3 linked regions of the Homo sapiens genome follow. The protein of the gene in region 1 interacts with the protein of each later gene in a pairwise test. Each region holds a gene or a part of one and is shown in the gene's direction. Other genes may lie near its edges.

Region 1 (3,600 bases):
AGACACCATCAGTGACAAAGCATTTCTTTCCCCTGTGTTAAAGTATCTATGTCAAGAGTCCTGACCCCATGTAATTTTTTTTTTGGTAGAGACAGGGTTTCGCCATGTTGGCCAGTCTGGTCTCGATTTCCTAACCTCAAGGGATCCGCCCGCCTCAGCCTCCCAAACGCCTGCTGGCCTCCCACCGCCTTTTGGGATTACAGGCGTGGCCCACCGCGCCCGGCCTAAATTCTTAATCTGTTTAATAGGGTGCAGCAATAACAAGCACACCCAAAATTTGTTTTATTGAAGTTGCTAGTGGTTTTGAGGTTAAAAATAATAACACATTTTCGTATGTATTTTTTGGAAGAGCTGCTCATCCTGAGGAAAAGGTTGAGCTTTGTTTTATTTAGCACAAATACCTACAAGTGTGCCGCTGAGCCAGGCGCACGGATATAGAAAATAAGACCTTCCTGGTTATTACCCAGAGGAGCTCAACCCCAGCGGAGGCCCACAGATGCATTTCGGTGGCAGGTGAGGTGGATGCAGTGCTCCCCAAGGAGGCGCATCCAGCCCAGCCCCAGCTCTCGCGAGCTTCCTGGAGGAGATGACGCGTTAGAGTCCACAGCCAGAAACCCAGGGCCTGGGGACTTGTTCTGAAGTGTGCCTCCTAATAAAAACATTAAGCCATGCCACAGTAAGCTAGTGGATTACATCATGTATGTCCAATGGCCAAAGTTTTTCCTAAAATGATCCTAAGATTAATACCACGTGGTATTGTATATTAATGAAAATCGGCAGGTATGCTGTGCTCTTGAAGAGCTGTTAAGTTTTATCATTTTTAGATTGCTTTAGCAGCAATGTTGTTTTGCTCTAGTTTTAGATTTAGAGATGAACTAACTGGAAAATTGTTCAAAGTGAAAGGGCTCAAGGTGCAATCAAAATTAGAATACCGGCCGGGCGCGGTGGCTCACGCCTGTAATCCCAACACTTTGGGAGGCCGAGGCGGGCGGATCACGAGGTCAGGAGATGGAGACCAGCCTGGCCAAGACGCTGAAACCCTGTCTCTACTAAAAAGACAAAAAATTAGTAGGGCGTGGTGGCATGCGCCTGTAATCCCAATTACTCTGGAGGCTGAGGCAGGAGAATCACTTGAGCCTGGGAAGCCGAGGTTGCGGTGAGCCAAGATGGTGCCACTGCATTCCAGTCTGGGCGACAGAGTGAGACCCTGCTAAAAAAAAAAAAAAAAAAAATTAGAATACCGGTTTCCCACCCCCTCCATATGTGACTCTTTCCTAAGAAGAAATTGTATGCATTTGATGTAGTTCATAGTAGTTCATAACGGGCACATCTGTGTTTTTCCCTCTTAATCTATAAGCTGTTGTGCATTTATTCAAGGCTTAAAAAAGAACACCACTGACCAAATGACAGCATTATGTATTAGGGCTGCCATAACGCAATATCACAGACAGGTGGCTTAAACAACAGAAATTATTTTTTTCATAATTTTGGAGGCTGGAAGTCTAAGATCAAATTGTCAGCAGGGTTGGTTTCTCCTGAGGCGGGTCTCCTTGCAGACGGCCCCCTTGTATTGTGACCTTGATTTCTGTGCTCGTGAATCCTTGCTGTCTTCTTGTAAGGATACCAATTGTATTGGATTAGGGCCCTTATGACCTCATTTAACTTTAATTACCTCCTTAAAGGCCCTGTCTCCAAATAGAGTCACACTGGAGGTGAGGGCTTCAACATATGAATTTTAGGGAACACAGTTTGATCGGTAATACATTAGAACTGTCTATGATAATTTGCAATGGCATGATACATATAAAAGAGACTGAATTAAAATGAGTGGATACATTAAACACTTAGACGTGAAGATAGGAAAATATAGCATATACAAGTTTTAGGAAAAAAAATTAAGGCAGAATGCACCATATTGAGGTATGGGGGAAAATAACATAAACATTCAGAGGAGTAATTTGAATAACCTTCCACAAACTTAGAAGTCCAAGAAGCATTTGTCAGTTCCTAGAACAGTTGCTTAAGTATGTGTCATAATAGGTTGCCAAGGAAATTGTCATACATCATAGAGGGAGTGAAGTAGTTCCCAGTCATCTTTATCCCTTTAAGCATGGTTTATTTTCTGAGCAAGGAGTCATCATGGGAGACCTTTTTTCCTTATTTTGGGAGGTAGATCCTCCCCCAATACCTGTAAATTGTGCCATTCCAAATCAGGATTATGAATGCTGGAAGGATGACTCTTGTGGAACCATAGGGAGCTTCCTGCTTTGGTATTTTGTTATCGTATTTGTCCTGATGTTCTTCTCTAGGGCTTCTGTCTGGGTAGGATATCTTTTTTTCATTTTAAATAATATGTTTACTGTACACTAGGAAAATTTCCATAAAATACATTTACTATACTTTGATGAAACTACTTTTAAAAGTTGTTTAGTTTTAAAAATAATGCAATCTTATTCTGGAGAATCCAGGAATATGGAAAAGGATGAAGAGGAAAATATAAAGCTACAGTTATCCTCTTTCCCAGAGATAACCACTGTTAACATTTTGGAGTATGTTCTTCCAGTTTGGTTTTTTTCTCTGCCTTTCCCAATATATCTCTCTCCATTTCTCTATCTTTGATCTTACATGGTTGGCATTATATTGCATATATTTTCATATCCTGCTTTTTAAGCTTAATAATATATCAGAAATACTTCTTTAAATTATATTCACTCAGCAGCACTTTTAATGACTGCATAATTTTCTATATTTTGATTGCACCAAAAAATTGTGCAAGTTTGAAACATTCAGATTGTTTACAGTTTATCCATCTGCTATGTAATGCTGGCATAAACCTCCCTGCTGGTTAATGACTTCCAAATCCCTTTTCTAGCCATGTGATTCTAATCAAAGATATGAAAGTTGTCATATTGATAGGATACATGCTGTAGGATTTTGGGGTTTTTAGAATGAAGCAATACGCTTTCTGCACAGAATAAGCAGAACTAGACTAAACAGAACTAAAGTCACCACTAAAATGCCATCGTCTTAAGAATGAGATATCCCACTTTATCAGGACTGTGATGCTTCCAACATATTATGAGTAACCAAGCTCTTTTTTTTTTTTCTTGAGATGGAGTCTTGCTCTGTCACCCAGGCTGGAGTGAAGTGGTGCAATCTTGGCTCACTACAACCTCCGCCTCCCGGATTCAAGTGACTCTCCTGCCTCAGCCTCCCTTGTAGCTGGGACCACAGGCGCAAGCCACCACGCTCTGCTAACTTCTGTATTTTTAGTACAGATGGGGTTTCACCATGTTGGCCAGGCTGGTCTCAAACTCCTGACCTCAAGTAGTCTGCCCGCTTTGGCCTCCCAAAGTGCTGGGATTACAGGCATGAGCCACCGCGCCCAGCCGTAACCAAGCTCTTATAATTTGCTGACATGATATCCTTGCTGGCCATTAATACCAGGCTGATGATTAAGAAAACCACCATCATTTAGCATTATAGCCATAGGCCTGGGCTGGCAGTGGTAAGACTTAATGCTCTATGAGCTCGGATGGGGTGGAGAAGGTTTGTTATGTCCATGCCAGCTGGATTCCATTCTAATCAAAGACTCTTTGA
Region 2 (3,822 bases), on another chromosome or scaffold:
CCTCAGCCTCCCAAGTAGCTAGGACTACAGGCGCCCGCCACTACGCCCGGCTATTTTTTGTAGTTTTAGTAGAGACGGGGTTTCACTGTTTTAGCCGGGATGGTCTCGATCTCCTGACCTCGTGATCCGCCCGCCTCGGCCTCCCAAAGTGCTGGGATTACAGGCGTGAGCCACCGCGCCCGGCCAAATTGTCATTTTTATAAAGTTAATGCTGACAGGGTGGAATGCATGATGCCACATCTCTGCATTATAAAGAACTTGGGGATTGTGAAAGAAAGATGCTCTTGGCCTTTGTAATCTGTCTTTATTGTGTGACTCTGCAGACACAAGTGTGTATGTTTCAGGTCTTAAAGGGTTGGGCAGCCGTCTTCAGAAACAGCCCAGGATGGCAGCTCACTGCCGACTGGCCAGCTCTTGGCCAGCAAGTTAGGAAGATCAGGCCAGCTGAGCAGTCCGTCCCCAGAGTACTCCAGTTCTGGTTATGCTACTCACAGGCTGAAGCGCTGAAGAAAGTCCTTTTTCCAAGCCTAGTTCAATATTCTATAAAACATGTATAATAATTCTGCTCTAGAGAGAGGGGTGGTAAATTGATGGACTCACTGGGCATTGTTATCTGTTTTGAAAATGAAATCTACAATGAGCAGTACATTTATTTAAAGAACACTTTTCTTTGCAGAAAGTGGAAATGGTTTAACTTCTTTACTTTGTTTCACTAGTTAGTTAGTGTGCATCTTCAATGTCTCTGCCTACATCATTATTTACTATGATATCAAAACTCCTAAGGGCAAAGATGATGTCTGCTTCATTTACTTTTTAGAGCACCCAGAAAAATGCCATGAACAAGTATATTTTTAATCCACTCATATGCTGTTATTGTAGATTGAAATATAAACTATATCCCATACTCATAAAAATATTTTGTTCTTATTTGAATCATTTAAGACCAAAAATCTGTAAAACTTCTCTATCAGAGCAGCACTGAATGTCCTTACAGACAGAACAAATGCATACCTTTTGGTTTATTTTAATTTTAAAACATTGATATTGACTGACTCTTTATTACAAAAGTCTGCCCAATGTAGAACATGTGAAAAATGCTGAAAACCATATAAAGGAAATGAAAAGTTTTCTTTAATTCCCATGCTGGAAGATAATCACTTGGAACATCGTGGTATTTTTTCCTAAATGATTCATTTTAAGGCGTTATTAATATCATCTAATTCTTAGCTAATTTTAAGACTTTCGACATGTTTCTTCTCACTGTGATTTCCATCTTTTCAGGTAGTGATCCTGTGTTCTTTCCAGCAAGAATTATCGTTTTGTTGTTTTTCAGTGCATTGAAACATGTTGTCGGTTAAAGGAAAGGGTTTGCCATGAGCTGCTAGTCACTTACCCCTGTTTCAAAGGAAACTTGTGGTTACCATGAAGGAAAATTTAATCCATCTGCCACAATGCATTTGTTCTCCTGAGAACCAGGTGGAACTACCTCTGACTATTTCCTTAGGATTATGCCACCCACCAAGGTAACTTTCTATTTCAGTAGGTGATGTTGAGAAACAAAACAACACCCTTTAAGTTAATCAGTTTTGGAAAATAGAGACTGGCTTTCTATTCCATGGCTTTGATGTGTTTAGTAGTTCCTGTAAGGATCTGCCTCTCTTTTGTTTTGATTGACAAGACTTTTCCTATATATTTGAGCAATCAAGCAGCCCAGTAACAGAAGGTAGAGACATTTACCCAGGGCAAACTTCTACCATTCATTGTGACTTCCTGAAATCTTAGTGCAAGTTTCAGCTCTAAAAGAAGAGTGGGCTCCTGCAAGATTAGGTAAGTGCTTCTCCGTATTTGTAACCTCATTCCAGAGGAGGGGAAGCCCAGAGAACTTGCTACAGTAAGGTCAGAAGTAGGAACTGTGAGAATAATGAATTCAGTAGGGGGTAAAGGTCCATGAATGCCATATCCTTTATACTTCAAAATCCACGTGAGTTCTGTCTAGTGGGCCAAGCATGAAGGGGGTTGATTCTGGCTCCGGAAAGAGCACGGGGAATGACCAAGACCCAGAGAGGGTGGACTTGACGGTGGATTGAGGTTATGTTTTAAATAACTCCTATGCTTTCCATCATTTGGATTTAAATTGAATCATAAGTAGATGCTGTTGCAGTGGAAGCCTAGAGCAGAAGCAATTTACAGTGAGTAGGACACATTTATGAATGGCCACCAACTCAGGTGATAGGTTTCATGATATCTTCTGCATATCCATGTTTAGTGGTGAGTTGGTTTAGTAACGATGCATATAGGGAATACTATTATTAATATTTATCAACCCCTCCAAATCATTCCCCATCATGACACTGAAAATATAGTTTTGAGCAAAGTATGTAACATGGCACCCAAATACCCTGGACCTGAATAAAAATAATTTATATGTATTCATGTATTCTGTTGGATTATGGATTAGTTTTGGTGTTACTCATATTTTATGTTTATTTTGGAAAGACCACTGGGACAAACTTCTTTAACACACAAGTCAACTGCAGCAGTTAAGTTACAATAAGGAAAAGCCTGAGAATGCACTTGGAGGATGGGCATCTAGAGAGGGCCATGGAATCCACACTGGCACCAGTTACAGGAATCTCTGGATGCCTGTGTTGGAGTTTGTGGGCATTTACAATTTCTGGGCTCATTTTCCCTGAAATGCTAGGAGCAAGGTCCCTTTGATAGTGACAAATGCATGGTTGGCTGTGCCATTGAAGGCAGCCAGATCTGTTAAACTCTGTCCTTTCCCTCTCCGGAAGAGCAGCATGAAGCTGGCATTCCTCTTCCTTGGCCCCATGGCCCTCCTCCTTCTGGCTGGCTATGGCTGTGTCCTCGGTGCCTCCAGTGGGAACCTGCGCACCTTTGTGGGCTGTGCCGTGAGGGAGTTTACTTTCCTGGCCAAGAAGCCAGGCTGCAGGGGCCTTCGGATCACCACGGATGCCTGCTGGGGTCGCTGTGAGACCTGGGAGGTGAGTTGCTAAGTTGTGCAGATGACAGTGTCTTCTAGGCCAGCAGCTTGGGTCTGATTCTTAAGAGTTCACTTTTTAAATGATATGAGGTAGAGCTGGGACATCTGCCCTTTCCTGTGGACTTAAAAAACCAAAACAAAACTATGATTGGCATCTTCCAAAAGTGATTTGAAAAACATGATGTTGCCCCTCTAACAAAGCATTGATAAGGTTAAGAATTTGGTTTACATTGTGTCTATGTATCTGGGAATCATCTCTGGGAGGTCAAGATGTACTGTTCTACCCGTTTTACAGATGACATGGAGGGATTCAAGGGAGAGTGGCTGCAAAGTCACGTAGAGCGTCAGTGTAAAGCTGGGAATCAATCTGTGGTTCAAGCTTGTGACCCAAACTCCTCCCTATGTTTCCTCATTTTGGATAAATTAGCCAGTTTCCAAGAAAGAGGCCCTGAGCTGAAGGGTGAGCGTTGGTCCCAGTGAAGGGTGAGACCCCTTCACTGCCTCTTCTGCAGCCCTTTTCCTCCTCAAGTCTCTGGGAGCCCTCTGGGGTTATCACTGACGGATCCATTAAGTTCCTTCATATTCAATTATACCTGGCCTTTTTAGAGACATTTAATTTAAAGTGGAGATAACACTCTCAAACAAAGTTAAAATCCTATTGGGCTAAGAGGAGCTGTTTGAGTGATGAAGAGGAAGAGAGCTATTCAGCACCCCAGCAGATCACATTACGTAGTGACTGTGGGCTCTTCCCCCTGAGGCCTGCCCACTTGGTAACCAATGAAGTGCTGTCTCTGATCTTGTCACTCCCTGGCCCAAAA
Region 3 (3,822 bases), on another chromosome or scaffold:
CCAGGAGGCTGGTGCCAGGGAGACAGGCCCAACCCACCCCCATTTGCACTGAGAAGAGAAGTTTTGGAGCGTTGCCTCCTAGAATAAAGATACAGAGAGTCAAATAGAGAGAATGGAGAGAGAGAAACATATATTATATATTATATAGAGAGAGGGAGGAGAGCGAGAGAGAGTGAGGACACCGAACTGGGCTGGCGGCTCCAAAGCACAGCCTTCCCTGTTCCGTCCCAGCGGGAGCTGGTGTTAGGGGTCCCAAGGTTGCCACCCACGTGCCCAGCTGTCCCACGCTGCAGCGCAGACGGCCACGCCCACACCCGGCCTTTTAGCTCAGGTCCACCATGGGGGACGGCCCAGCGTGGGTGGGGGTGCCAGAGGGTCCCGAGTGGGGGCCGTGCCTTTGCCCAGACCCTGCACTTTCAACCAGGCCAGTCCGGCTCTGGGGAGCAGGGGCCTCCCCGGCAACAGCCCCAGGGGCCTTGAGGGTCTGAGGTCCCAGCCCTGTTGCCAAGTGACCTTGTCCCCAGCTCCCTCCTCCCAGGCTGGTGTGAGTGTGCGTGCGTTTGTGCCGAGCTTCTATTTCATATTGCAAATATAAATAAAGGAAGGCAGTTTACGATTCTGCTGGTCAGACCTTACGTTCTGGGATGCGGGGTGGGGAGCCTGTATTATCCCTGCACCCCAGAGGCTGGGGGTGCTCCTGACCCAGTCTGCCCCCACACTGTCCTGCCAGAGGGAGCCCTGTGGCTGCAGAGGCCCCAGGCTGGGCCAGGCACTGGCTGTGAGGGCTCCTGCCAGGTCTACCCCACCTGTGGGCAGGGCCTTGGGCAGAGGATAGAAGCCACCGACAGGCTCAAATCCCTGCTCCTGCCCCTGCTTACCCCCAGTAACCAAGCCCAGCATTGAGGCTGGGTACTGGCGCCCAGTAGGTCTGAGTCTTTCAGGTAGAAGGTAGAAGTGTAGGCTGCGTGTGCAGCGAGTGGCACCGGTGAGCGGCGCTGGGAAACCGGAGCGTGTGGACCGGGCCATGAGGACAGCGTCCTCACTGGGGTGGCAGTTGGCTTGGAGGTCACCTGGGGGCTCGCTCAGCTAACAGGAGAGGGTGCTTGTTCCCCGCATTCGTGGTGGTCCCTCCTGGTCACCCATTGAAGCAGTGTTTGTGGTGGAGCCCCTGAGGGCTTGGTGGGGTTGAGCAGAATGAGGAAAGGTTTCATGGAGCAGGGAGGGAGACGGCTAGGGCAGCAAGTGAAGGACAGACTCGCCTTCCCATCCCTCCAGGGGCACTCCTGCCAGCCAGCCCCTCTCCCGCTTCCCATGATGGGGTGGCTGTTGGAATTCTGCACCCCATCTCTTCTGATTGTTGGGGCCCAGGACAAGGGGACAGGCATTTGTGGGCCTAACCTCCCCAGGCAGATAGGAGGAGGAAGCCATGTCCCAGCAGGCTAGGGCAGAGGGACCCCCAGTGCCAACAGTGCTTTATCAGCGGGCGCCAGGCAGGGCCATCCCCAGGGTGAGGACAACATCTCCCTGGGCCCTGTTATCAGTCACAGAGTCCACAGGACGCTCCTTGGGTTAACGTGTAACCATGAGCCCTCCCCTCCACCCCCTGAAGCCACTCGCTCCCAGATTAGGTCGCTCTGGGGCTATCAGGCCAGCATGGACGCTGGCAAAGCGGGGCAGACCCTGAAGACTCACTGCTCAGCCCAGGTGAGAGCCTTCTGAGCTGTGCCTGGGGCTGGGGGGACAGGGCCCTGGAACCCCAGCAGCCGGCGGGTCTGGGAGCTGCTGTCCTTGAGTTGGTTGGGCCCTGGGAAGCTGGGTTCTGGCAGCCTGGTCCCTGAATGGGTCCAGCCTGTACAGCTGGGGTCCCAGGTGGGGGTGGGACAGGAGCCATGAGATCTGAGTCCCAAGAATGGGGGCTGGGCTGGGTTTCGGCTCAGTAGCTCCCCACTCCCCAAAGCGCCCAGATGTCTGCAGGTGGCTGAGCCCCTTCATCCTCTCCTGCTGCGTGTACTTCTGCCTCTGGATTCCCGAGGACCAGCTGTCCTGGTTCGCTGCCCTGGTCAAGTGCCTGCCCGTCCTCTGCCTGGCTGGGTTCCTGTGGGTCATGTCCCCAAGCGGGGGCTACACCCAGCTCCTCCAGGGAGCCCTTGTGTGCTCGGCTGTGGGGGACGCTTGCCTCATCTGGCCGGCAGCCTTCGTCCCTGGTGAGTGGAAGGTGCTGTGACGCTTTCCAGATGCCCGTGTGAGAGAGGCCCCAGCACTTGGATGGGAGCCTGGGTGCAGAGGGCTCCTGTGAGAGCTCCAGTGGTCAAAGGCACAGTGGGGGGCGCAGCCGTGACCGAGGCAGCTCACGCTCCAGCGAGGGGTGGGGGCAGGCGGTGTTAGGGCAGTAGCTGAGGTGGCGCAGAGGGCAGTGAGGACCTGCTGGAGGTACTGCAGTTTGAAGCAGGGTTGCTGAGGAAGGCCTCACTGAGGAAGTCACATTTGGGCAGAGCTGAAGGGCTGTATGCCTGTGTGGAGGAAGGGCGAGTGTAAAGGCTCCGGGGCAGGGACGTGTCAGGTGCTTGTAGCCCAGCAGGCCAGGGTGGCTGGCGCAGAGTGGCTGGAGAGCTGGAGGCCATGGGGCTTTGGAGGCCAAGGGAAGGTGGGGCCTCCTGGCAGTTCTGAGCAGAGCAAGGATGGACACTGCATGTGGGGAGACCTGCAAGGAGGCTCGGCCAGGGTGGGGCCTGGTGCTCTGGGATGGTCCTTCTCTTAGGCCCTGAGGGGTGACCTCGGGGCCATTCCCAGGATGGGCCTTCCTCACTGGTACCCCACCCCTCTCCCGCCAGGCATGGCCGCCTTTGCCACCGCCCACCTCCTCTACGTCTGGGCCTTCGGCTTCTCTCCCCTGCAGCCCGGCCTGCTGCTGCTCATCATCCTGGCCCCTGGCCCCTACCTCAGCCTTGTGCTCCAGCACCTCGAGCCGGATATGGTCCTGCCGGTGGCAGCCTATGGGCTGATCCTGATGGCCATGCTGTGGCGCGGCCTGGCCCAGGGCGGGAGTGCCGGCTGGGGCGCGCTGCTCTTCACGCTCTCTGATGGCGTGCTGGCCTGGGACACCTTCGCCCAGCCCCTGCCCCATGCCCACCTGGTGATCATGACCACCTACTATGCTGCCCAGCTCCTCATCACACTGTCAGCCCTCAGGAGCCCGGTGCCCAAGACTGACTGACTAGGGAGCTTGAAGGGCCGGTGTTCAGGCCCTCTCCTCCTGCAAGGACCTGGGCCTCCCAGCCCAGCCCAGCCTGAGAAATACCCTCAGCAGCGAAGCTTCCTGACGCCTGTCTGCAGGCGCCGCTGCCGCCGTCGCTTCTGGCTGAAGACGTTTGAGGACGATTTGCGGAATTCCAAGTCCACTACTGGGTTCCAGCTGCCTTCCCCCGGTTCTGACTCCAGATCCCTGGCTCCTCAGCCAGGCCCACATGGAGCCCTCCCAGCCACCAGCCTGCCTCCATGTTCACTGTCGGCCCCACAGCCTGCCCGCCCCCTGCTGCTGCTCTGAATCCGTTTTCCCTGTGGGTGTGGAACCGTAGATGTTGCTGTTACCGTAGGAGAGGCCTCGGGGAGGGTCATGATTGTGATAAACCATCGCGGTTAATGACAGCAGAAGGTTCTTTGTCGCTCCCCATGGACCAGGCCTGGTGCCCAGTGGGACCCTCCATGGCCCTCTGGTGGGGGGATTCGGGGGGATAAAGTGAGGATTGTGCAGAACTGAGCCAAGAGGACTGTTTGGTCTTTGTGTTAGTTTCCTGAGGCTGCTGTCACAAATTACCCCAAGCC

What was found.
Region 2: the proteins of SSMEM1 (region 1) and GPHB5 interact in binary tests that used the Homo sapiens proteins (3 or more experiments, as listed by UniProt).
Region 3: the proteins of SSMEM1 (region 1) and TMEM86B interact in binary tests that used the Homo sapiens proteins (3 or more experiments, as listed by UniProt).

What each region holds. Positions count from the first base shown.
Region 1 is NC_000007.14:130,205,772-130,209,371, forward strand, and holds the start of SSMEM1 (serine-rich single-pass membrane protein 1), read left to right. Parts: upstream 1-2,088; 5' UTR 2,089-2,139; coding exon 2,140-2,322; intron 2,323-3,515; exon of another isoform or gene 3,516-3,600.
Region 2 is NC_000014.9:63,316,829-63,320,650, reverse strand, and holds the start of GPHB5 (glycoprotein hormone beta-5 precursor), read left to right. Parts: upstream 1-1,715; 5' UTR 1,716-1,827; intron 1,828-2,800; 5' UTR 2,801-2,801; coding exon 2,802-3,005; intron 3,006-3,822. UniProt on the Homo sapiens protein: Functions as a heterodimeric glycoprotein hormone with GPHA2 able to bind and activate the thyroid-stimulating hormone receptor (TSHR), leading to increased cAMP production. Plays a central role in controlling thyroid cell metabolism.
Region 3 is NC_000019.10:55,226,573-55,230,394, reverse strand, and holds TMEM86B (lysoplasmalogenase TMEM86B), read left to right. Parts: upstream 1-1,631; 5' UTR 1,632-1,653; coding exon 1,654-1,704; exon of another isoform or gene 1,705-1,909; coding exon of another isoform or gene 1,910-1,957; coding exon 1,958-2,204; intron 2,205-2,831; coding exon 2,832-3,214; 3' UTR 3,215-3,757; downstream 3,758-3,822. UniProt on the Homo sapiens protein: Catalyzes the hydrolysis of the vinyl ether bond of choline or ethanolamine lysoplasmalogens, forming fatty aldehyde and glycerophosphocholine or glycerophosphoethanolamine, respectively and is specific for the sn-2-deacylated (lyso) form of plasmalogen.